4 linked regions of the Homo sapiens genome follow. The protein of the gene in region 1 interacts with the protein of each later gene in a biochemical or structural test. Each region holds a gene or a part of one and is shown in the gene's direction. Other genes may lie near its edges. The genes, in order: RIGI, WRNIP1, THAP12 and TRIM40.

The links.
Region 2: the proteins of RIGI (region 1) and WRNIP1 form a complex in vitro, tested with the Homo sapiens proteins (one study listed by BioGRID).
Region 3: the proteins of RIGI (region 1) and THAP12 form a complex in vitro, tested with the Homo sapiens proteins (one study listed by BioGRID).
Region 4: of the proteins of RIGI (region 1) and TRIM40, one has a biochemical effect on the other in vitro, tested with the Homo sapiens proteins (one study listed by BioGRID).

The regions. Positions count from the first base shown.
Region 1 is NC_000009.12:32,488,171-32,495,206, reverse strand, and holds part of RIGI (antiviral innate immune response receptor RIG-I), read left to right. Parts: intron 1-1,264; coding exon 1,265-1,446; intron 1,447-2,655; exon of another isoform or gene 2,656-2,668; coding exon 2,669-2,816; intron 2,817-3,786; coding exon 3,787-3,906; intron 3,907-5,755; coding exon 5,756-5,863; intron 5,864-6,319; coding exon 6,320-6,473; intron 6,474-7,003; coding exon 7,004-7,036.
Region 2 is NC_000006.12:2,775,357-2,782,392, forward strand, and holds part of WRNIP1 (ATPase WRNIP1), read left to right. Parts: intron 1-3,906; coding exon 3,907-4,136; intron 4,137-7,036. UniProt on the Homo sapiens protein: Functions as a modulator of initiation or reinitiation events during DNA polymerase delta-mediated DNA synthesis. In the presence of ATP, stimulation of DNA polymerase delta-mediated DNA synthesis is decreased.
Region 3 is NC_000011.10:76,378,105-76,385,688, reverse strand, and holds the start of THAP12 (52 kDa repressor of the inhibitor of the protein kinase), read left to right. Parts: upstream 1-4,556; 5' UTR 4,557-4,852; coding exon 4,853-4,941; intron 4,942-7,584. Other genes in the region: protein GVQW3, read right to left, coding at 3,479-3,860. UniProt on the Homo sapiens protein: Upstream regulator of interferon-induced serine/threonine protein kinase R (PKR). May block the PKR-inhibitory function of DNAJC3, resulting in restoration of kinase activity and suppression of cell growth.
Region 4 is NC_000006.12:30,146,128-30,149,252, forward strand, and holds the end of TRIM40 (E3 ubiquitin ligase TRIM40), read left to right. Parts: intron 1-857; coding exon 858-1,082; intron 1,083-1,392; coding exon 1,393-1,415; intron 1,416-1,597; coding exon 1,598-1,685; 3' UTR 1,686-2,601; downstream 2,602-3,125. UniProt on the Homo sapiens protein: E3 ubiquitin-protein ligase that plays a role in the limitation of the innate immune response. Mediates inhibition of the RLR signaling pathway by ubiquitinating RIGI and IFIH1 receptors, leading to their proteasomal degradation.

The DNA.
Region 1 (7,036 bases):
AAATAAAAACAGAAAATAATGCATATAGGTGAGGATGTGGAGAAACTGCAACCCTGTGCCTGATTGGTAGGATTGTAAAATGGTGTTAACAGCCATGGAAAACAGTATGGCAGTCCCTCAAAAAATTGAAAATATATATCACCATATGATCCAGCAATTCTGCTTCTGGTGTATTTCCAAAAGAATTGAAAGCAAGGTATTGATGAGATATTTGCACATCCATGTTGATAGTAGCATTATTCGTGATAGCTTACAAGGTAGAAGCAACTCAAATGTCCATCAGTGATGAATGGATCAACAAAATGTGATATACACATACAATGGAATATTATTCAGCCTTAAAAAAAAAAGGAAATCCTGGCACATCCTGCAAAATGGACATACATTGAGGGTGCTGTGCTGAGTGAAATAAGCCAGTCACAAAAAGACAAATATTGTATTTTGCCACCTATATAGATTATCTAAAGTAGTCAGATTCATAGAAACAGAAAGAGTGGTGGTTACCAGGAGCAGGGGTGAGGAGAGAAAAAGGAATAGTTGTTTCATAGAGTTTTAGATTTGCAAGGTGAAAAAGGTCTGGATTTTTTTTTTATAACAAAATGAATTTAACACGACTGAACTGTACATTTAAAAATAGTTAAGATGGTAAATGTTTTATCTGTTTTTTACTACAATTTTAAAAAAGAATGAGGTTGAACATCTTATGTATGTTTCTTGGCCATTAGTATTTTTCTCTGAACTTTCTAAATATGATTTTTAAATAAATATCTTTTAAAGGCATGTAGAATAATATTAAGTAAATTTCCCATTTACTTAATATTATCTTAGAAAAATTAGAAGGAAAGTTCCTTGTGGGCAGGAATTAAGGTTTATATTTCTTTTTGCCTTCTTTACTGCTTTCCACTGAGAAGATACTTAATAAACCTGTTGACTCTGACTTTTTAAAGACAAATCAGGGATTGTAGGTGAAGTCTATGAGTCACTTTGGAAGAAAGATTTTATACTAAGATCAAAATGTAAGACTTCAAAGTTTTCCTTAGTACTTTTTCCCAATAGATAATAAATATTGCTAGAAGACCTAAAGTGTTGGCTGACTAAAATGAATACTGTTTTCTTTTTGAAAAATCAATGACAATTGGGGGTAATTTACAGATATTTTTTGAATTCTACCACCATACATTCAAACATGATTTCTATGATACTAATCTCAAAGTATTTTTCAGTTGGTTTCATAAAAGTCCACATTTTTTTTCTTTTTTTTCAGGTTATTCTGGACTTTATGAAGCCATTGAAAGTTGGGATTTCAAAAAAATTGAAAAGTTGGAGGAGTATAGATTACTTTTAAAACGTTTACAACCAGAATTTAAAACCAGAATTATCCCAACCGATATCATTTCTGATCTGTCTGAATGTTTAATTAATCAGGAATGTGAAGAAATTCTACAGGTAAGTTAATATAAAATACTAAAATTGGGGGAAATAATTATAACATGGGAAGGTCTTCTGTTTTCTATACTGTTTTAGACCTGAGAAAGATCATTGAAACCCACAAAAGTACTCATAGAATAGTACTTTTTTTTTTTTGAGACGGAGTCTCGCTCTGTCGCCCAGGCTGGAGTGCAATGGTGTGATCTCGGCTCATTGCAACCTCCGCCTCCTGAGTTCAACCAATTCTCCTGCCTCGCCTCTCGAGTAGCTGGGATTACAGGTGCGTGCTACCATGCCCAGCTAATTTTTGTATTTTTAGTAGAGATGGGGTTTCACCATGTTGGTCAGGCTGGTCTCGAACTCCTGACCTCGTGATCCACCCGCCTTGGCCTCTCAAAGTGCTGGGATTACAGGCGTGAGCCACCGTGCTCAGCCAGAATAGTACTTTTAATGTGAACTGAGTAATTTTTATGTCACAAAGTTTTTTTGAAGTTTGCCCTATTTTCAGTTAAAATCACCACAGTCTGTGAATAGTATTTTATGCAAATTTAAATTGAACAGTTGAGCAAATGAGAAAGGGCTACAGACTCTAGCAGTTAAGTGTTTAGACTCTGGACACAGATGAATTTTGTTAGAATCATAGCTCAACCACTAGCGGTATGATCTTGGGCAAGTTACTTAGTTTCTCTGAATATCTATCTGTTTCCTTGTGTGTAAAATGGAAATAATAATGTTACCTTATAATATGGTATTTTCATAAGGGTAATGAGATAATATATGTAAAGTACTCATGTATGTCTTGCACAGAGTATGTGTACAATAAACTTTAGTTATTATGGTTAGTAAAAGTCATACAAATTCCTCAACCCTGAAGAAAAATTTGTTAATATTTTGTTATCTGTTTCCAAATATTGCTATATGCCAATATACCCATATTGGGAATGGTTGTCAAATGATTATTTTCTTAATATTGCTGATGAGGATAGGTATAAGAACTTAGAGGTGATGAGAAGGCTTGGCTTGACATAGTGACATCATGTGTAAAGGACAAAGATGAAGGAAAAAGTATCTTAAAAGACTGTGTTGGATGGGGCAAAAATTGTCATGGATATGACCCACTGAGCTGTAATGTACAATGGCTTTAAATCAGATAGTACATGACTGACATTTCTTCAGTAAAAATTGATAAAGGGAAAACTTTTGAGATAATTGATCAATAAACTACAGTTACCTTGCTTAGATTTGCTCTACTAAGGGGATGATGGCAGGTGCAGAGAAATTGGTGGAATGCCTTCTCAGATCAGACAAGGAAAACTGGCCCAAAACTTTGAAACTTGCTTTGGAGAAAGAAAGGAACAAGTTCAGTGAACTGTGGATTGTAGAGAAAGGTAAGACACTGTACCCTCCTCACAGCTCTACTTAGGACTCGCTCATTCCAACCGGTCTTTTACATCCCATCAGAGGCGTTTTTCCCCTCAGATAGCCAGAGCTACATCTCTAACGCGAGACCAGCAGGAAGCTGGATTCTGGGAGGGAGGCAGTTACTTGCCTACAAAATTAGTTTGGTTGCATATAACCCCTAAAAATGGACTGGGGAAAACCACTCTCATCCAGAATTAGCCCATCTGGCCCAAAGGATTTGAGGAAGGCAAAATCCGAACTCTCAGTCTAAGTTTAGATTATCAGAGAAATAGCTTGAGAATTCTAGAGTTAAAGGTTCAAACTCCAGGACTTACCCCCTTTTCAGAGTTGATTTCTTGACAGACATTGCCTGGTTCTCTTACTGGAAGCCATCTGGAACTGAATCCGACGGGTGAAAGAATTGGTTGTCATTAAGTGTCTGAACTATCATTTGGTTTCTTGAAGCTGACACTCAGCATTGTTTCAAAGGCTGAGTTTGGTAAACATCTGAATATCTGGTCTTAGCTTTCCTAGGCTTCTTTAGATCATAAGTTGTTTCAGAAACTGTATAAATACACATCTGATTTAATGGGTCAAGAGTCAGTCAGAAAAGGAAGACATGAATGTCTGCTAAATCATGCTCTTTTTTTTTTTTTTTTTTTTTGGTGCATACGAATCCCTCCGAGGTCTTGTTAAAATGTGGATTCTGATTCAGTAGGGCAATACGTTCCACACTTTGAGTAATATAGCTCTAAATTACATTGGAGGTCAACGCCAAATTGAGATTTTAAACTCAAAATGATTCTTTCAACTGTTTTAAAAGGTGAAGGGGAGTGGTTGTGAGAAATTTTAATAGAAGTTAAAAATCTTAGTGTTATGACCATTTTGTGGAGCTTTCACCATCAAAACTATAATCAGATTATGTGAAGATTCTAAGACTTTTTTGGTCTTAAAAAGGTATAAAAGATGTTGAAACAGAAGATCTTGAGGATAAGATGGAAACTTCTGACATACAGATTTTCTACCAAGAAGATCCAGAATGCCAGAATCTTAGTGAGAATTCATGTCCACCTTCAGGTACCTGGTATTGTTTGTCCTTTTCCATAATGGTGCTCTTCTGGTATTTGGTGTGGGGGCTTGTTTTGCAGTACCCAAAGTCACAGCCTTGTGAAAAGTTTTGTAAGGAAAATTAAGAAAGTAAAGAGAATTTATGTTACAATAGATACTTTTTCTATATTTAGAATGCCATTCTCTCCTAGTTCTTCCACTATCTTTTTTTCTTCTTTTACTATCTTTTTTTTCTTCTTCTACCACTAAGAAAGTATGGGCGTGTCTATATTGGAAATGCAAATAGAGTCTTCACCAAAACCCAATGTCTATGAATTCCCAAATCAACCTTGCTTTCTAAATAAATACTACTTCTATTTCTGAGTCACTTGCTCAATTTCCTTTTAGGATCCCTGGGCTGCCCTGCAAGTTGATGAAGTTAGTGTGCTACCCAAATGCGCCTGGCTGAGAGGTTGAGTAGGGGCTGAGATCCAGCCTGTGTCGTTTGCAACACAGTGCACTGAGGGGCTGTGTCCTCCAAGAGGAGCTCCCTTTTGTCATTTACACAAAGGCACTGTATAAGTTAGCTGTGGCCCTGTGAGGCCCCCTTATGCTTCTCAAAGCATATTTTCTTGATGGTTTTATGAGACCGGCAAGTTGCATAATATGCCATAATAAAAAGTTATGTATAAAAGAGTATCAGGAAGGAAATTGGGATTAATAGTGGTGGTAGAAGAAAAATGATATTAGAATAACATCATAAAGAGAAAATGTGCAGATTACGTCTGCAACTGAATGTTACAAGTTTTTTTGTTTTGTTTTGTTTTTTTGGTCATTTCAGAATAAAATCTGTTACCCCTTGGAAAAAAAAAACAGATACATGAATATGAGTTGCTTTAAATTTTCTGACACGTGAAGATTCTTGCATGCCTTTTGTTGTTGTTGTTGTTATTGTTTTTTGAGACTGAGTCTCTCGCTCTGTTGCTCAGGCTGGCGTGCAGTGGCACAATCTCAGCTCACTGCAACCTTGGGTTCAAGTGATTCTCCTGCCTCAGTCTCCCAAGTAGCTGGGACCACAGGCATGTGCCACCACATCTGGTTAATTTTTGTATTTTTTTTGGAGAGGTGGGGATTTCAGCATGTCGGCCAGGCTGTTCTTGAACTCCTGACCTCAAGTGATCCATCCACCTCAGCCTCCCAAGTGCTGGGATTACAGGCATGAGCCACTGCACCTGGCCTTTACATGTCTTTCGTGTGAGTTTAATTCACTTAACCTTTTAGAAATTCTCCCTTTCTCTAAAATGGGTAGGTTAGACTCAGTAGATAATTTCCAAAGTCTTTGCTAGCTCTTAATGATTTATATGCCTACCTGTTATTGAGATAAAGCCTTTGATTATTTTTTAAAACTTCTGGTTATGTTGAGAGAAAATATCATTTGAGAACTTGAAGAACGACAAAGCATTATTGCTCCTTAATAAGAAATTGCTTTGAGAATCCAATGTTAACAGTTTGGTTTTCTTCAAAGATCGTGGGAGGATTTGTTGCTTTTTTCACATACAGCATTGCCTTTAGTAGACAGCTTGTCTTACCCTGAATGGGGCCATTCTTTCTTTGGTTTCTGTTAGCCTTCCATGATTGTATAAAAAATAATTCATGTTTTTTTTTTTTTCTTTCTTGCCATCAATACTTTGTCACTGAGAGAATTCTGTACTTCAAATTAGTGGAAAAGCTAGAATGGTTACCAAGAGAAAGGATTCTAAACTTTCTCCAATGAGGATCTTCTTGCTGGAGTCAGAATTTGTGGACATTAGACTGTAGCTATTGCCGTGATTCCTCAGAGCAGGAACTGTTTGGTAATTTTGCTCCTTTTGTATTCCAGAAGTGTCTGATACAAACTTGTACAGCCCATTTAAACCAAGAAATTACCAATTAGAGCTTGCTTTGCCTGCTATGAAAGGAAAAAACACAATAATATGTGCTCCTACAGGTAAGCCTATTGCCATTACTTACATAGTTTTTCTGTTTGCTTCCTTTTTTTTCTTTTGTTGAATACTGGGACAGAATGGGCAAGTTTCAGTTTTTTCCTTGTTCCATGTGTCTTTTGAGAAAACTGTCCTAATATAATCCTAATGTTTTTTATGGGATTATGTAATTAATTAATTATGTACATTAATGTATTTAATGTATTTTCTTTACCTTTCATGAGAAGGTAAAGAAAAGTGTCCTCTTTTAGCTTGCTTTTGGGTCCTGGCTGTTGGCATGCTACTTAGGGAGCAGCTTGATATTTTTTAGTCATAGTGTAAATTCTGTAATCATTAACATATTTAAATTATCAATTAATTAGTCAGCTCAGTGGTATTAGAAGAGCCAAAAATAAACACCTTTCCAGAGAAATATCTAATATATGAGTTACATGTTTTCTTTTTTCCTTACATGTTAAAAGGTTGTGGAAAAACCTTTGTTTCACTGCTTATATGTGAACATCATCTTAAAAAATTCCCACAAGGACAAAAGGGGAAAGTTGTCTTTTTTGCGAATCAGATCCCAGTGTATGAACAGCAGAAATCTGTATTCTCAAAATACTTTGAAAGACATGGGTAGGTATAATAGTTGCTTCAACTTCTTTTTCTCCAGCTTCATGTAATTGATGTGTTTTCTGTTTTGTTTTTGACAAATGATTTAAAAAAATTTATATTAGATTCAGCTTTTTTATAATCCAGATGTTATCCCTTCATGGATTCAAGTCTTTTTTGTTAGATGTACCAGAAAACTTAAACTCCCCTGGTTTGCCCTTCTATGGGGAGTAAATGACTTCAGGAATAAATTTGATGTTTACGTGGCACATTTAACTTCTTTAGTGATTTTATAATTTATTTGATATTATTCTTTTACGTACTCTTTTCTCTCTTAGTGACTTAAAATAATATATAGTACTATAAATTACAACTAGCTTGGATTTATTGATCTCTTACTATGTGTCAGGCTCTGTGCTAAGGACTTGCCTACAGCTATTCTTCTTTTGGACTCAGGGAGAATTTAATCAGTTGATGTTCTGATCTAGCATTTCATCTTTGTGGTTCCTTATCCACATCGTGGTTAGTAATATGGAATTTCTGTCATTTCCCAGGTATAGAGTTACAGGCATTTCTGGAGCAACAGC
Region 2 (7,036 bases), on another chromosome or scaffold:
TATGGTAGGTAAGGTACATGTGGCTGTATTTGTGTCTAACTTGATGCATATCCCTGGTTGAAACTTCTACACAGCAGTTATCACCCTGACCATGAAATGTTCCTTTTCCTTAGTGGAAGAGATTTGTGGGGTTTGGTTTGTAATTTAGAGAGGGAGAGTTTAACCAAGCCATGCATATTCTTTCATTCTGCCTTGAAATAACAGGTACATTTTTACTTACTGCACTCCTTCTCCAACTTACATATCCAGCTGTCTAAGTAGTATCCTCCAAATTCCAGTATTACCCAATGTGTAGAAAGCTTCAGGATTTAGGCACCTGGAAGAGGAAAGAAGAGAGCTTCCTATATTCTTCTGTTAAAATTAAAGCCCTTCTCATCAGTTGGAGAAGCCAAGCTCTCTTAAGTCTGTTTCTATCTCTAGGTTTTGTTAACTAGAAATAGAATCTTTTCCAATGCATTTATTTTAACCAATTTTCCCTTATTATAAATAGTGTTTTATTATAACAACATAATTTACTTCCTATTGTTTATTTCCATGTAGGATGTTATGACATTTTGGGCAGTCTATCCCCAGAATAGATTTTACCTCTTTTTATTGTATTCTACCTTTGGAAGGTTATTTTTAAGTGCAAAACACTTTATAAATATATGCTTAATTTTAATATATGCTTAAATTTAAAAATAATTGTAAATTCTCTAGACTGGGAACACTCTTTCAAAATAGTTTGTGCCGCAGTTTGCTGAGGGATTTTGCCAATATCAATACAACTATCCCTTCATCATTCTTGGCATGAGTTCTCTCATGGGCTTCCCATTCTAAGATCTCAGGGTATTTTAGTATATCTTACTTCGTTCTTCAGAACTTAGTAAATGGGAGTTCAAGATATATTGGGTGTTTAAGTGGAACCTTTCCCTGCTCAGTCGTCTTCACAGTGAATCTCCATTTTGTAATTTTCTTGTGTGATCATTGTGAGTGCTGTCAGCAGGTCCTGTATTACTTGGACAGAGTTGCCGACAGATTGATCTGGGCCTCGAAATACTTTCTTCTTTTGGACGGGGTGAAATTTAAAATGTGGATTATACCCAAGGGGAGGAAGAAGAAGGGAGTGGCGCGAGCTCAGGTAGCTTTCGTTGTGGCAGCACCTCCATTCCCCATGACTCCAAACCAGAAGTGTGGAACCACTTGTACTTTGGTCAGGAGTTTAAAAGCCAAAGGAAGACCTTATTTTCCAACCACATAAAATACATAATCATTGCTAAAGACTTATTCACAGCATACTGTTGATAAATCAATGGAGTAGACGGCTAGCTGGCTTCTGTCCTAATTAATAAGGCCTGCCTCCCTGTCTGTATATGAGGACTAATGGAAATGAGGCAGTTTATACTAGTAAATACCATGGTATATAAGGCTGCCCATCTCGTCACTGTCCAAAGAGCATGCCATGCCCCTAAATACATACAAAAGACAAATTCATGGAGAAGGGATACATACCAAAATACTAACGTCAAGGTAGTCTAGCAGAAGGTGAATTTTCTCCCTTTGTCTATTTTTAAAATTTAATGTAAATTTTTTTAAAGTAAATGTTGACAGGTCTGAGTAGCTTGTTTTTCAAACAATTATTTAATGGTTAAGGATGTAAAACTATGTAAAATATGGTCCCAGTTTTTGTTTTAGGTTAGCTGTAAGGTTGATGGTTGCATGGGTGAGTGGATCGTAAAGTCAGCACTTGGCACAGTAGCTTTCATTCTGCTGGAAATATCAAGTACATTTTTATCTCTCAGTGCTGGAAATATGGATTCTTTTTGTTTTCTCTATACTTTCCATATAATTTATAAGAAGTAAAGGTTTCACTCTGAGATTATGATAAAACTGAAGTTAGTCCATTCATTTTGCAAATATTGGATGCCTATCATCTACCAGGTCTGGGAATACAAAGAATAAAATATTCCTCTCCTTGAGGTGCTCCGCATAGTAGGGATGATGAATGTAATGTAATCAACACACAATCCAACCCATGGTGCAGGATATAGGCTAGTTCAGTCCGTTAGGATCCAATGGGGCTCCTGCTTTGACTCCTTTTTCTTCCCTCAATTGTCCTGAAGGCTTTTTGTTGCTAGGCAGCTTTCCAAGGAGAGAGAATCCATTGTTTTTACTAGTTCTGAGGCAGAAATGAGATGCCCAAGCAGTTTCTGTTCTCCCTACCTGTCTTCCCACACAGGTTGAGTGCAGTAAGGGGCTGAGAGTGCACCCTTCCCTCTCAGGCATGTCACGTACTGCTACACCCCTGTGATGCTGGTCCTTCCCCATACATTTTCTTTAGTATATGTTCTGTCCATCATTATCTTCTAAATCATCTTCCAGAAGACTTGCTAACTAATTTCTGGTTGAGCAGTGATCCCCAGGCTTTATAGAGTGCCAGTGACATGGCCTCGGTGTTTGTTTTTTTGTTGTTCTGGTGAGGTCTGCTGAGAGAATGCTACCATCAGGAGAGAGGAAGATGGGTCTCCAGGCTGCACCACTGGCTCTGGGGCCCAGGCAGTTGGCATGAGTGAGGAGAGAGTCATTTGTTGTAAAGCTGGGGCTGGCCAGTTGTCTTAGGTGTGGTGAGAGACCCACAAGGAATAACTGGAAATCAACTTTGGTAAATATGGGGGTGAGATGAGGCATCTTTAAGGCATTGGGAACAAATCCTTCCGTGAATGAAATGCAGATTGGTGTTATTTGGGTTACTCAGTGAGCAGAGTAGTGTCAGTGAGTGGGTGTATGCTGAGGAGTTCTGCATTGATCCAGCAGGCAAGCTGGGTCCCCTTCGGAAACTGCCACCCCTCCCCGGCCCAGCCCCGTTGGTGCCTGTACATTGTTTTCCAGGTAGCTGATTCGGACAGTCCTAATGGGCTTATTATTTACTGTAGATGTTCTCAGCTGAATGTTGATGACATGGGTGAACTGTAACTGAAAAATTTTATTTTTTTGCTTCACAAATGTGCAGCTAGCAGCTCAGCCAGGAATAAGACCCCACTAAGTTATGAAATGTGTTAGATGTCTTGTTTAACTCAACTAGGGATAGAAAATTTTACTGAGTCAGCCTTCTGATCATAGTTAGATCTTATTTATGAGGGTCCAAATTTAGAAATGTGACTGTAAGTTTTAGTCCTGATGTTCAGAGAGAGGTTAGGTGGCTTACCCAGGGTCTCATGGCTATGTACCAGCAGTCTTCTCGTCGCTTCCCAGGCTAATGACCTCTCTGCTACCCTGTGCGGATTTTGCATGATTAGTGTCCACTATGAGATGACCTACTGCAGCATCCCAAGATTCCCCAGGCCAAGAGAATCCTGAGACCTGCTTCTAGGACCTGCTGTGCTCAGAGTAACTAGGGACCCAATTTGTTGTTTTTAAAATGAAGGAATTGAACTGCATGATCTGGAGCCCTTCAGAGCTAATATTCAGATATAATGCTGACTCTCCCCTGTGTGGAAAGTGGTCTAAGCACATCTGTCTCATCGGATGTAGGCTGCATTTGGAACATGTTTTCCATACACGGTAATGAGGTGCTAGCATTTCTAATAAAGTTTTCACTGTTGTGCAGGGTAGAACCAGAGAGACCACCTGTCAACAGTGACTTTCCAGGCCAGTCAGTGTCTGTTTCACACAGACTTAGATGTATGAACCTATGCAGTGAGATACCCTCGACACTCATAAGATACAGGGCGATAACCTGGTGACTTAGGAGCCCCAGTCAGTTCGTAGTCTTGATGATGCTTAAGCACATTGACAAAGGTGAGAATAAGAGGCAAAGGCCTTGAACTCTTCAGTGTCCTTGCTGAGAAGTATGAGTTTCTAAGACATGTGCAGAACAAGAAGTATGCAGCCTGAGTGTGACCGTAACTAACCCTGCTTGTGTTTCAGGCCCGCCATGTTCATAGAGGATAAAGCAGTAGACACCCTGGCTTACCTCAGTGACGGTGACGCCCGAGCTGGGTTGAACGGACTGCAGCTGGCGGTGCTGGCTAGGTTAAGCTCTAGGAAGATGTTCTGTAAGAAGAGTGGGCAATCCTATTCTCCCAGTAGAGTTCTGATCACAGAGAATGACGTGAAGGAGGGCCTACAGCGATCCCACATTTTATATGACCGGGCAGGTAAGTAATTCACCTGTGGAAAGAGTGAAACCATACGGAAAGAAGTGTGTGCACACATTCTCATTTCCGGAAGCCTGACTGGGTTCCGGAAGCATTCCAGCTGGGTCCAGAGCATTCCAGTGATTCTCAGGTGGATCTGCATGTTGGTATTAAGCCTTCTACACAGGGCTGACCTTTCCGAAGAGAGGCATGAAGCAGAAGCTGCCCTGTTGAGAATCTAGAGGAGTTTTGGGGTTGGAAATGGCAGGCTGCACATTCACCTTAGAAGGTAGTTGGCTATTCCCCACCTTGCAGAATACAATCACCTTTGAAAGCCTGTGCATTCACTTGACAATGAATATGTTTTGTGATCATTTACAACGGCAGTAAATAAAAAGAGGACTTTTGTCATAATGACTTATTAGTTTTAATTGAGAATTAAAATGCTTTATTTCTAGAGTCTATACTAAAAAATAGTCATGGATCTTGAAGTTTTTATTTTATGTAGTAGCTTTTTCAAAAATTTAATTTTGCTGTGTGCACTTATCTGTTTTTGTAGAACTGCATTTACAGATAGCAGATTTGATACCAGCTCTTATTAAATCTGTGACTTAGCAATATTAAATGTCATTAGCACAGCACATTTGCATCTTTTTATAAAAGAAGTGGGAGATGAATATAACATACTGTAGATTAGCAAACTTCTGCTGCTTGAGCATTTGTGGGACTTTGGATGGAATCATGTTGCAGTAACTGTGGAATATAATTTCCACACTTTTCAAAGCTCTGCCAGAAAAGGAGGCTGATAATTGAATGTTCCTGATCTCACGTAGGCTGTGCCACGTGACAATGGAGAGTCCTTACTGGTTAGAGAAGGGGTGGAGGGGCTTAAGAATGACTTTGGTTCCAAGCGCTGCCTCTTCGTGGGTGAGCACACTCGCTGCATGACCTAGGGGGGCTGACCAAAGCTTTTTGGCTTTAGCGTGCCTCAGCTGATGGTAGCTCAGGGGTGTTCATTAGTGCTAAGGACACACTGGCAAGTTGAATAAATAATCCTGTCTACATTGTGACGTGAATGTGCCTCAGCGGGGCCTGCTCAGATGGCTGGCTCTCCCTAGTGCTCTGGAGCATGACGTGAATGCTTGCAAAGTCTGAAAAGCAACACATTCTAGGTGTGTAGAGCCCTGCTTGACTTTTGGTCAAATAGAAAAAATGTAGATATGAACAAGAAAAAAGATTTTAAGACATTAAAAAAATCTCACCATGCCGGGATCGCCATTGTTTCTGAAGTGCAGCAGCAGCGGTCTCTCTCTCTCTTCTTGTAGGTGTCCCAAAGGATTTGCCTTGTTTTGATTGGAACGACTAGGACTGTTCTTTGACATTTTATCAGACTGTCACTTGAGATCCATATAACATGGCATTCACTAACACTCAGCCATTGAGTATTTTATAGGTGTATTCATTTTTTAAATTCTCAAAATTGCTTTATGGAGATAGCTATTAATATTACCCCCATTTTAAGATAACAAAGCAAGTGGTGAAACTGACCCGTAAATCCAGGTCTTACTGGTTCCCAAGACTGTCCTTCCCCCCGTCCGCATTTGCCTCCACACCAGCCTTGCCATGCTGTTACTGATCTCACCCATTACATCATGCTCCTGAGAGGGGTCACCCGTCCATGCACATACAGAGCGGATCTTGGAGGGGTTCAGTCCTAGGAATCCCACTTCCTGAGCTCCACGTTGCAGAGCTCTGCACAGTGGGGATCACCTTGTCTATAGCTTGGAGCTGGGGGGTGGTGGAGGCTGCCTAGTGCCGCTGCCTAGTGCCAGCGCCTTAAGAACCCCACATCCTATACATCTTCCCAGTATGAGTGTGTTTACACACCCCACCCCAGTGCAACATGTCTGCCCCACAGTGGATCCGCAGACACATAAATATCATTCAGATCTTGGAGAAAGCTGCTTTTACAGGCTTTGCTCTATAAATAGGGATAGTGGAAGCATTGCCCTGGAAACCTGTTAGCTTATACTCTTGGGCCTTTTTATAACTCCAGTGAGACAAAGACCCACCCCCAGAGTTGTGATTATTTTTGTATATGCCACCTAGTTCATAGTTACCCACTAGTAGGATCCAGTGATGTTTCTGCATCAGAGTGAAGGAATTTCTAAATGAGAGCAAACTCTCTGCCATGCATTGACATCGGGGTTCTATAGAAGTCGTCAGATTTCAGGTTATAAAGCAGTGTGTAATAAAAGCAAACATGGAAGGTAGCATAGAATAATACTAGTATCTATCACTGATGCAAAAGAATCTTTTTACAGTGCCTGCTCTGTGCCAGGCGTGTGTTATTTAATACAGCCCTGTGAGGTAAGTGGTCTCGTTTTTCCCATTTTACAGATGAGAAACCTGAGGCACAGTGAGGATCAGGAACTTGCCCATGGCCCATGAGCTTGGGGGTCCAGCCCAGGCTGTTTGGTCCCAGAGCCTGTGCTCTTGTCCATTATACTGGTGGTATTGCCCCTGGCATTGACAAAGTGGGAAAAGATGACTAACCTGTGTAGGGGGAGTTTAAATTTGACATAAAGTGGTGTGGGTAGTTTCTTCCAGCCCCCATGCCCGTGAGTTTAGCCAGGCCTGTTACCTGCTACCCTCTTCCCCGCCTTCCTCCACCCTGCAGAGGAGCAGAGCGTAGCCTGAGTGCCTGGGCCAGCAGGGTGAGGGAGTGGGCCAGAACCATGCAGATGTCATCCAGGACACCCTCTCGGCCAGTGTCCATAGCACTCTGACTTCACCAGGGGAGCCCTGCACAGGAGACACTCAGTTTGTTCTCAGAAATCCAGTAGCTGGGCTGACCCATCCATCTGCCCTGGCTCTCAGAAACCAGAATCACTCAGGCTGAGCCGTGGGTCCTGCAGGTC
Region 3 (7,584 bases), on another chromosome or scaffold:
CAGCAGCTGAAGCGGGGAGCTGAAAGAAGGATCCAAAAAATCAGAGAAGAGTTGTAAGTTAAGTGGAAAACCATGACCCAAAGGTCAATACAAGGATCAGCACACCAAAGTGACCAAAAGCAGCTACTGAAGATGTGACCCAGGACCAGAAAACAAAGCAACAAGGAAAGAGAGGAGTAAGAGCAAACTGTGAAGAATAAACTGAGAGGTGTCTGAAGATAGTCAAGGACAAGAGCCTGGGGTGTGACGGACACATAGCTGGATGTGTGAGACTACGGGACCAGGAGCTCAAGAGGCCTAGGCAGCAAGGTGCAGGCCAGGGCAAAACGTGCATCAGCAATAAAATAGATTTGGTGGGTGGACACATTAGGAGTACTCATATAAGAACTTTCCTATTTGGAGATGCCCAGATCATGCTCTACCCTTGGGTTTAGAAATTCTGAGCAGCCAAATGTGAATGGTTTGCTCTGGATAAGTCCTTTTCATTATAGCCAATTGGAACCATTTGAATTCACACTCCTAATTACCTGCTTCTGGTTGCTGTGTCTAAACCATGTCTGGACCAACATAGCTTCTGGTACTCTACACTCCACCATGGGTCTTGGTCCAGCATCACTGGCAGGGACATACCAGCCCTGTTCATAGGACTGGAATAAAATCCAGAAGTAAGTTGTCTCAGGACCTCTGTTTAATAACAGGTTAGAAACAACTCCTGTAGGTATGGTTGTGGGATCCTGGCCTGGGACCAGGAGCATATAAATCTGCAACAATTACCACTGGGTAGGCCTTAGCAAGGATTACTATGAGGTTCAGCAACAAAGCTGCAAGAACTAGTGGTGGGGACTTTGTTCCTAAAGTGCAGTGTCCCTGGTGCCAAGTGCTTGTGGGCAACCTAGAGCCGCATCTGATGTAGGAAGACTTCATTGTCCTGAAATGGAATGTCTAGAAACTGTTAAGGAGCTGGAGGTCTATAAGCTGTTGTTTGGTTTAAGAGTTTTCTTACACAGTATCTTCTCTTTGTGGGACAACGTCTAGCTTTCAAGGTGTCTCAAAACTAACAGGTGTTGACCCGGCGTGGTGGCTCACGCCTGTAATCCCAGCACTTTGGGACGCCGAGGTGGGTGGATCACCTGAGGTCAGAAGTTCAAGACCAGCCTGGCCAACATGGTGAAACCCCGCCTCTACTAAAAATACAAAAAATAGCCGGGTGTAGCAGCATGCACCTGTAATCCCAGCTACTCAGGAGGCTGAGTCAGGAGAAACACTTGAACCTGGGAGGCGGAGGTTGTAGTGAGCTGAGATCGTGCCACTGCACTCCAGCCTGGGCAGCAGAGCAAGACTCCATCTCAAAAAACAAAACAAAACAAAAACAGGTGTTAATGAGGAACTTGTAATTTTTGGAGGTGAGTAGAGAAAGTGAAAGAACAGCACTAAAAGTAACTGTGATGAATGAGTGTTGTGCCTCTACTATCAAGCAATATTGTTTAAGAGGAGCTGTTATATCTAAAAATCCTTGAGTAAAACAAAGACTGGCCAATTCTGTGAAATGCTATTACCAAACCCCTGCCCCCTGAATGTTTCCAGTCTATGTGGTATTACTTGGAACCCACTTGGGAAAAGTTCCATTCCATAAATCCTGGCAGAGGCAGGAAGAGAAGAGACAGAGTTTGAACTTGCAGAAACTGCTTGTCGGGGTCCAAATGGAAAATCAGATATCAAATTGGTTGTTACAAACCTATTCACAGACTCAGGGGAAGCAATTTAACAACAAGTGGCATAGAGTTGGAGGCTTAGGAGAGAAAGCAAATTATCCCAAATTGTTCATCTGCTGCAACACCATTATCTTCCTCTTTAAACTTTGTTATTTTAGCCAATAGTGTCATCATTTTCTAATTCCTTTTTTTTTTTTTTGGGACAGAGTCTAGCTCTGTCGCCAGGTTGGAGTACAGTGGCGCAATCTCCACTCACTGCAACCTCTGCCTTCCGGGTTCAACAGATTCTCCTGCCTCAGCCTCCTGAGTAGTTGGGACTACAGGTGTGCACCACCACGCCCAGCTAATTTTTGTATTTTTAGTAGAGACGGGGTTTCACCATGTTGGCCAGGATGGTCTCGATCTCTTGACCTTGTGATCCACCCACCTCAGTCTCCCAAAGTGCTGGGATTACAGGCGTGATTCACCACACCTGGCCAGTGTCATTTTCTACTGATGCAGGTTGGAAGCCTCATGCTGTTCCACCTGCCCCGGAAGCTTTCCCTAATTTCACAGCCCTGTCTCACCCATCCTCATGGATCCAGTTCAAGAACCATCTCATCCATGAAGCCCATCAGCCCTTGGAGATCTTGTTCATAACCTCCACATTGTCAATGCCCAGCAGTGTCCTAAAAACAGCAAGTTCTCAAAACTATAGGCATTAGTTACTAAAAACAGGCTGCTGTGTGGGAATCCGCACATAGGCAGCAGGCTCCCTTAATTCAGGGACTAGAGAGCCACCTGGTCTTCCTCCCCACACAACACAGCCTTGCCTGGGTCCCCGGGTTTATATTTTCTAGCACCAGATCCTCCTCTTCCAACAGGGGTGATACCCAAATGAGTGGAGGTCCAAAGCATAGGACTAGAATGAAACAAACCCAGCTCTTCTGTGAGGTGTAGGCCTGTGAGAAGATCAGTATTGGTGGCCAACCCCTGATTCCTAAGGGTGCCTACTGAGTCATCTGGGCCAGATCAGCCCCTAGGCCCAGCACTGTTCAGTAATACCAGCATGCTACTACCTTCTGTACCATACCTCAGGCCCTGACTGCAAAGCAGGCTGAAACTGTAAGCCTTCTTTTGGGGTCCTCCCAGAAAAGCATGCTTCCCTGGGCACAGAGATACAGATTCCAGGAGATCCTGTTCCTCTCTTCTCACTGGCATGATCCTCTGAGGCAGAAGGTTGAGAACAAAGGAACAGGACAGCCACAACAAGCTAAGGTCTGGGCAGAGAAGAAATCCAAACTTGTTGAGCAAAAGAAATCAAGAACAAGCAAATACCAGAAGGGAACAGCCAAAAGTTTTTCAAAGTTATGGAGAACAGCAAGGAAAATGGTCCAAGAGTCCAGCAAAGAGTAATGAGGAGGGCCATGGCACATAGGGAGGAGTGGTGAAGACTGAAAAATACGTGAGCAGCCAAAGAAGGTGCCTAACAGTGAGGCAGCATCCTAGTTCTGGTTCAGCTAACTCACATTCCTCTCACCATGGGGTGAACCAATTCTCAGCTACCCTGGGGGGAAGGCTTGTTGAAGATGACGCCTGCAGAAGCTGACTGGCAGAGTAGTGGACTCTGGGATGGGATACCGGCAGGGGCATTTCCCCACCAGCTTCACCCTGGAGATAACTCCATGTTTCAGAACCTGTTACCTTTTTCCTCAAACATGAGCTATTTTTCCTAGTTTCCTTTGAAAGATCGGACCGAAAGTCAAGTTTTCGTGGTTTAGGCTCACCCTTCAAAACACCCGAAATAACTTTTGCAGAAATCTTCCTCATGTTCAAGTTTTCTTTCAAAATGAGCCTAACAGTTTCTTTGTCTAAATTTAACTCTTCAGCCATCATCCTCACGGTTAACTGCCTGTTTGAACAAACCAAGTCCTTGACCTTCTGGATATTGTCATCTGTTCGGTGGGTGACTGGACGCCCACTTCGGGCATCATCTCGAACATCTTCCCGTCCTTCTTTAAACCTTTTGTGCCAGTCAAAAACTCTGGCCCTTGACATGACTTCATCCCCATAAGCTTCTTTTAAAAGATGGTGGGTCTCACTTGCAGACTTGTTCAATTTCACGCAAAATTTGATACTAATCCTTTGTTCTAAATAGCGGTCACTCATTCTGGCACTGAACAACACAGGAACGTTTAACAGGCCACGACTGTAAGGGAAAGACGGACAGATCAATCTTTATAGGGCTGCAGGTGTAATCATATCGCTCTTCTTGCTCTTCTAGAAGCCTCGCCGGGAAAGAGTAATTGCTTTTATGAATTTTTGTCCCTCAGCTTCCAGTCGAGGCTGGGGAGATCCGTTCTGGGAAGCCAACAGTCGCTGCAAAGCTGGGAAAAATTAAATCGCCTACAACCACGTCTGCATCAAACCAGTGCACGCACATCTGCCGAGAGTTTGCCAGTCACCAAGGTCGCTCCGATTCCGCGGCCCTTAAGGAGTATATGGCGAATTCTGCAAGAAAGGCCTAAGTGGTGGCAAATTAAGCAAGCAAGAAGAGATGCATCGGTGATGTAACGTGCAAGCTCGCCCTAGATCTGCAGAAACCCGCGCACGCCAAACCTACCGGAGCAGCCCAGGAACCGCCTGCTCTAGCGTCCCGGGAGACAGGCGCGCATGCGCAATTCTCTCTCCCCGCGGATTAGACTGTGCGCAGTCGCACTGCGGCGGCGCGCGCCAGGTCCCGCCTCCGCCTCGCCACACCCCGGCAGGCGCGCTTCCTTGCGCGTGCCCGCCTGCTGAGAAGGCGGAAAGGAGGGGCGGGGGAGGAAGGCTGAGGGAAGAGAGGGCACCCCCGGGCGTCAGGGTGCATTGTGGGAAGGAGGCGGCAGCGTCTCGGGCGGGCGGGAGGTGCACCAGCGGCGGCGGCGGCGGTAAATCCTCCCGGCCGCTCACAGCACTGTGGAGCCGCGTCCCCAGCCCGGCCTCGGACCGCGGCACCCCTCCTGGCCCTCGCGGCTTCTAGCCCGCCCGCCCCTCCCCCGCGCGTCGGCCCTGCCGAGCCGGCCGGCCGGCCTGGCTCCCCTCCCCGGCCCCGACGGGCGGGCGGACTGCCCTGAGGAGGCGGGGAGGGGAGGGCTGGGCCGGCCGGCGGGCGGGCGACGATGCCGAACTTCTGCGCTGCCCCCAACTGCACGCGGAAGAGCACGCAGTCCGACTTGGCCTTCTTCAGGTTCCCGCGGGACCCTGCCAGGTAAGCGGCGGGCGCAGAGCGGGCGGCCCGGGCCCACCTTCGCGGTGAGCGCTGCCAGCCGCCGGCCCCTGGCGGGCTCCCGGGCTGGCTGAGAGGGGCGCAGGAGGCGGGCGCAGCGCACTGCCGTCGACCCCAGCGTTGGACCGAGATGGGGAGCCGGCCCCGAGCCGTGGGCGGGCGGGCGTCCGGGGACCTCGGAGCACGTGCGCTGGTGGGGGCTCTGCGCGGAGGACACCACCCCAAACGCGAGGGAGCTGGGGCGGCGCGCGGACGCGGGATGCTGTGGGTTCTCGCCGTGGCTCACTTGCTGTGTGACCTCGGGGGAGTCGCTTTCCTCTCTGGGCGTTAGTTTCCTTAGCTGTCAAAAGAGAGCAGGACTCTATGGTTGTGGCCACTGGGGCCTTTCCCTCTCCTTGCCACCACCCCCGGGACAGTGTTTCTGTTTTGAGTCCCGCTACCTTCTTTCATCTCATCGCAACTGCTTTCTCCTTCGGACTTGTCATTGCACGGTTCAGGATTCATTTTCTGGCTGTCACCGTTACTCATTTTCTCGCTTGGGTATTGTAGGGATAACAGAGGGTGTACGCGTGAGGGCGTGGAAATTGGTATTGGAACCTCTTCCTTCGGATAACCCCCACACACTGACATATTTAGGGAATGATAGCATAGGGACTGTGTTTGAAAGGCTGAGATGTTTCATAGGCCTGTCTTGTTGGTTCATTCATTTAAAATCAATGCCTACTATGTGCCGAGCGCAAATGTTAGGTGCTGGGAGTTCATGGGTGAATAAGGGTGTCACTGCTTGCAGAAAGCTCTCAGTCCAGTAAGGGAACAGGTGCAGCAACGGGCGACTATAATTTATGTTATTTATTAATTAGTTCAATTAATTATTGAAGGTCTACTTGTGTTGGCATTGTTGTGAGCAGTGGGGGTTACAGATGAACAAATCGAAGTCCTTGCTTTCATGAAGATTACATTCTAATGGGGGGGGAATAAACAAGTAAAATACGTAGTGTGTCGGATGATGATAAATACTGTGGAGAAAAATAAACAAAGGTTAGAGGGTAGGGGAATAAGTAGTATCAAGGGACGCACAATTGCTATTTTAAATACAGTGATTAGAGAAGGCCTCACTAAGAAGGTGAATTTGAGCAAAGACCAGGTGAAGGGGCCAGCCATGGAGATACCTTGGGCAGCAGCATTCCAAAGAAGGCAAAGACAGGGCAACCAGGAGTCCAGGGAGAGGGACTGGGAGAGAGGTGAGATGAGACCAGAAAGGTGTGTGTATGGTAGGGGCAAATTCTTTAGGTAGGACCTTGTAGGTCTTGGAAGGCACTATGGTTTTTATTATGAGTGAAATAGGAAGTCATTGAAGGGTTTAGAGCAGAGACTTAAATTTTAACAGGATCAGTGGCTGCTCATTAGATTGTGGGGAGGCAAAGGTGAAAGCCGGAAGACCAGTTAAAAGGCTGTTGTAATAATCCAGATTAATAGAGGAGGAGATGGTAAATTTGAGATATGGTTTGAAGGTGAAGCCAACATCATTTGCTAATGGTTTGGAGGTAGATTGTAAAAGAAAAAGAGAACTTAAGGACGACTTCAAGATTTTAAAAATCTATGTTGGCCAGGTTGGTCTTGAACTCCTGGCTTCAAGCAGTCCTCCTGTGTCGGTCTCCCAAAGTGCTAGAACAGGCTCTGAGCCACCGCGCCCAGCCGACTTCAAGATTTTTAACGTGAGCATTTGCTGAGATAGGGAAGACTGGGAAGAGCAGGTTTGGTAGAGGAATACTAGAAGTTTGGGTTTGAGAGACCTGATAGACATTCAAGAATAGATGTCTAGGCCGGGCATGGTGGCTCACACCTGTAATCCCAGCACTTTGGGAGGCCTAAGCAGGCGGATCACTTGAGGTCAGGAGTTCGAGACCAGCCTGGCCAACATAGGGAAACCCTGTCTCTATTAAAAAATACAAAAATTAGCTGAGCCCAGTGGTGCGTGCCTGTCCAGCTACTCAGGAGGCCAAGACGTGAGAATCGCTTGAACCCAGGAGGCAGAGGTTGCAGTGAGCCGAGATCGTGCCACTGCACTCCAGTCAGGGTGACAGAACAAGACTCCGTCTCAAGAAAGAAAGAATAGATGAAAAAAAAAAAAGAATAGATGTCTTTCTTCATACCATATACAGAAATGAACTCCAAATGGCCTATACTTTTATTGAGATCAAAGGCCTAAATATAAGAGCTATGTCATTAAACTTTTAGGAAAAAAATACAGATAAATCTTCATGACTTTAGATTTGGCAGCACATTCTTGTTTGTTTTTTGTTTTTTTTGAGAGTCTCACTCTGTTGCCCAGGCTGCAGTGCAGTGGCACAGTCTCAGCTCACTGCAACCTCTGCCACCGATGTTCACAAACTATTCTACTCACTCAGCCTCCCAGGTAGCTGGGATTGCAGGCATCCGCCACCATGCCTGGCTAATTTTTGTATTTTTTTTTAGTCAAGACGGGGTTTCGCCATGTTGGCCAGGCTGGTCTCGAACTCCTGATCTCAGGTGATCTGCCCGCCTTGGCCTCCCAAAGTGCTGGGATTACAGGTGTAAGCCACCGTGCTTGGCTGGCACCACATTCTTAGATATGACACCAAAATA
Region 4 (3,125 bases), on another chromosome or scaffold:
GTTCTCAGGAGCCCTTACTTAACTATTCTGGACATCTGTCTGTCCCTGGAACAGCCTGATGTGGGCAGATGGTCGTGGAGGCTGAAAACCCGGGTGTTGGCCTTGGCGTCAAAGTTTGCTGGTTGAGTGACCTACGCAAGTTAAGCCCTCTGATCTTTATGTGACTTACATGTTAAATGAGAACCAGTCCTGCTCTGCCTGGATCACAGTAGGGATCAAAGGAGACCAGTGTCTCGTCAACTGAAAATTACTACACAAGCCATAGGCCTCTGTTTCTTTTTATTTTATTTTATTTTTTTTTTGAGATGGAGCCTTGCTCTGTCGCCCAGGCTGGAGTGCAGTGGCACGAACTCCGCTCACTGCAAGCTCCGCCTCCCGGGTTCACGCCATTCTCCTGCCTCAGCCTCCCGAGTACTGGGACTACAGGCACTTGCCACCACGCCCAGCTAATTTTTTCTATATTTTAGTAGAGATGGGGTTTCACCATGTTAGCCAGGATGGTCTCGATCTCCTGACCTCGTGATCCGCCCGCCTTGGCCTCCCAAAGTGCTGGGATTACAGGTGTGAGCCACCGTGCCCGGCCGCCATAGGCCTCCATTTCTGTCTCTGACAGTCTACCTTTCTATTCCTCTTGGTCACATGGCATCTGTAGATATTCAGAGAGTGAGGTGGAAAGGTGAGGTGTCCCTGCCTTTATGAGAATCAAAGCTGCTTCTGCTATACCTGTGACACACAGAGGCAACACCATGAGGGCAAGAGGACTGAGGAATCAGCATTCCTGCTCAGACATTCAGAGACTGTGAAGGGCCAGGAGGGAGCCACCTGACACTGAGTCTTAGGGAGCCCCTTTCCTGTAGTTTCAGGTAGACCACGGGAACCACAGGCTGGAGGCTGGGCCGGAGAGCCAGCACCAAACCAGGGAACAGCTGGGTGCCCTCCCTCAGCAGTGGCTGGGCCAGCTGGAGCACATGCCAGCAGAAGCGGCCAGAATCCTTGACATCTCCAGGGCAGTAACACAGCTCAGAAGCCTGGTCATTGATCTGGAAAGGACGGCCAAGGAATTAGACACCAACACACTGAAGGTGCATACCCTGAGGCCTTCCCCAAGGGCTGGGATTCTCCCCGATAGGAGGCAGCCCATCTGCATCACCCTTCTGGGAGGTGTAAGAGGGAGGGGCCTGTGTGATATGTGGTGACTTGTGGTAGATGTGGCTTGTTCCAGGCTACAGAGTGCTGCTGCAGCAGAATGGGCACAGAAGAGGGGTGTTGCTATGTTCCCCCAGTTCTCAAGGTGGCACCCCAGAGTGGCCTCCAAGAGTGAATTGGGAAAGGAATTTGGAGGTGATAGGAACCTGAGAACCAATTATGATTCTCACTTTTTCTCTCTCCTAGAATGCTGGTGACTTACTGAACAGGTACGAGCTGTCCCTTCTTCTTTCCCACATGTGCATATAAACCCACACAACACAGACATGCACAGAGGTCAAGGAGACCCACTGCTCCGTTAGCTTTTGTATCTTGATGCTACATGGCCAATGGAAGAGCCAATGGAATATATGAATACATATTAATCTATGAAAGATTTCTTTGTTTCTAGGAGTGCTCCACAGAAATTAGAGGTTATTTATCCCCAGTTGGAGAAAGGAGTCAGTGAATTGCTTCTTCAGCCCCCTCAGAAGCTCTGACCTGTTCATCCCTGGGACACCTCACTTCAGGCTCACCTCAGCCTCCTCTCTCTCCTTCCTCCAACCTGTCCAGGCCCCCACTGGGTCTACCCAGTGCATCTTCGGGCCTGCCAGCTCCTGAACATGTCACCATTTCTTCATGTCCACAGTCATCACCTGATGCCTGACCCTCTGACTCTTGGACGATAGCCAGCCTCCTTCCAGGACAGGCTCATGCTTGGGGCTGCCACTGTGGAGGTCGGGGCCCATGGTCTCCAGGAGCATTTGTGAAATCTCCATTTTGCCTGTAAACTGATGGTAGTGCCCATCTCTCACAATCTCATTCAAATAGGATCCTCCAGGCCTCTGAATGGCCCGAGCTCATCAGCAGTGACACCACCTCACATGTGGAGCCCAGCTGAGTTCCTGCAGTACTTGTTGTCTGTACCACTCACCTGGCACTTATTTATTATTGTTGTGGAAGACAGACTCAAAGACAGCCTCCCTTCATGATCCTCACCTCTTGGAATTCATGCCCTTGTTTGGTCCCCTCCCCTTGAGTGTAAGTGGGATCTGTGACTTGCTTCTAATGAATGGAATAAGGCAAAGGTGATAGGGTGTCACTCTGGCAACTGTGTTGCATTGTATAGAACTCCTCCTTGCTGGCCCACCCTTTTAGAGCCCCTCCTAGGAGCCAAGAGCAGCTTCCAGCCAACAACAAGCAGAGGCCCTCAGTCTTGTGGCTGCAAGAACCTGAATTCTGCCAACAACCCGAGTGAGCTTGGAAGCAGATTCTTCCCCAACTGAGCCGGATAAGAACCTAGTCCAGCCAACACCTTGATTATAGTCTTGTGAGTACCTAAGCTGAGGACCCAGTGAAGCTGTGCCAAAATTTCCCACCCACAGAAACAGTGTGACAATAAATGTGTGTGTGTTTTTTTGTTTTCTGTTTTCGTTTTTGAGATGGAGTCTCACTCTGTTGCCCAGGCTGGAATGCGGTGGTGTGATGTCGGCTCACTGTAACCTCTGTCTCCTAGGTTCAAGCAATTCTCCTGCCTCAGCCTCCCTAATAGCTAGGGATTATAGGCGCCCGCCACCACACCCGGCTAATTTTTTGTGTTTTTAGTAGAGACAGGGTTTAACCATGTTGGCCAGGCTGGCCTTGAACTTCTGACCTCAGGTGATCAGCCCACCTTGGCCTCCCAAAATGCTGGGATTACAGGTGTGAGCCACCGCGCCTGGCCATGTGTTGTTATAAGGCAGTAAATTTGTGGTAATTTTTGTGGAGTAATGGATAATGAATACAATTGTATATTAGTCATTTTTGTATAAGCCTCACTTCTTTGGGTGAGCAGGGATCATATTCTGTCTGTGTCCTCATGTCTAGAACAGTGTCTGGCTCATAGCTGGTGTCCAGTAAAATTTTAAATGTATGTATAAGTGAACTAATAAGAAAGCATA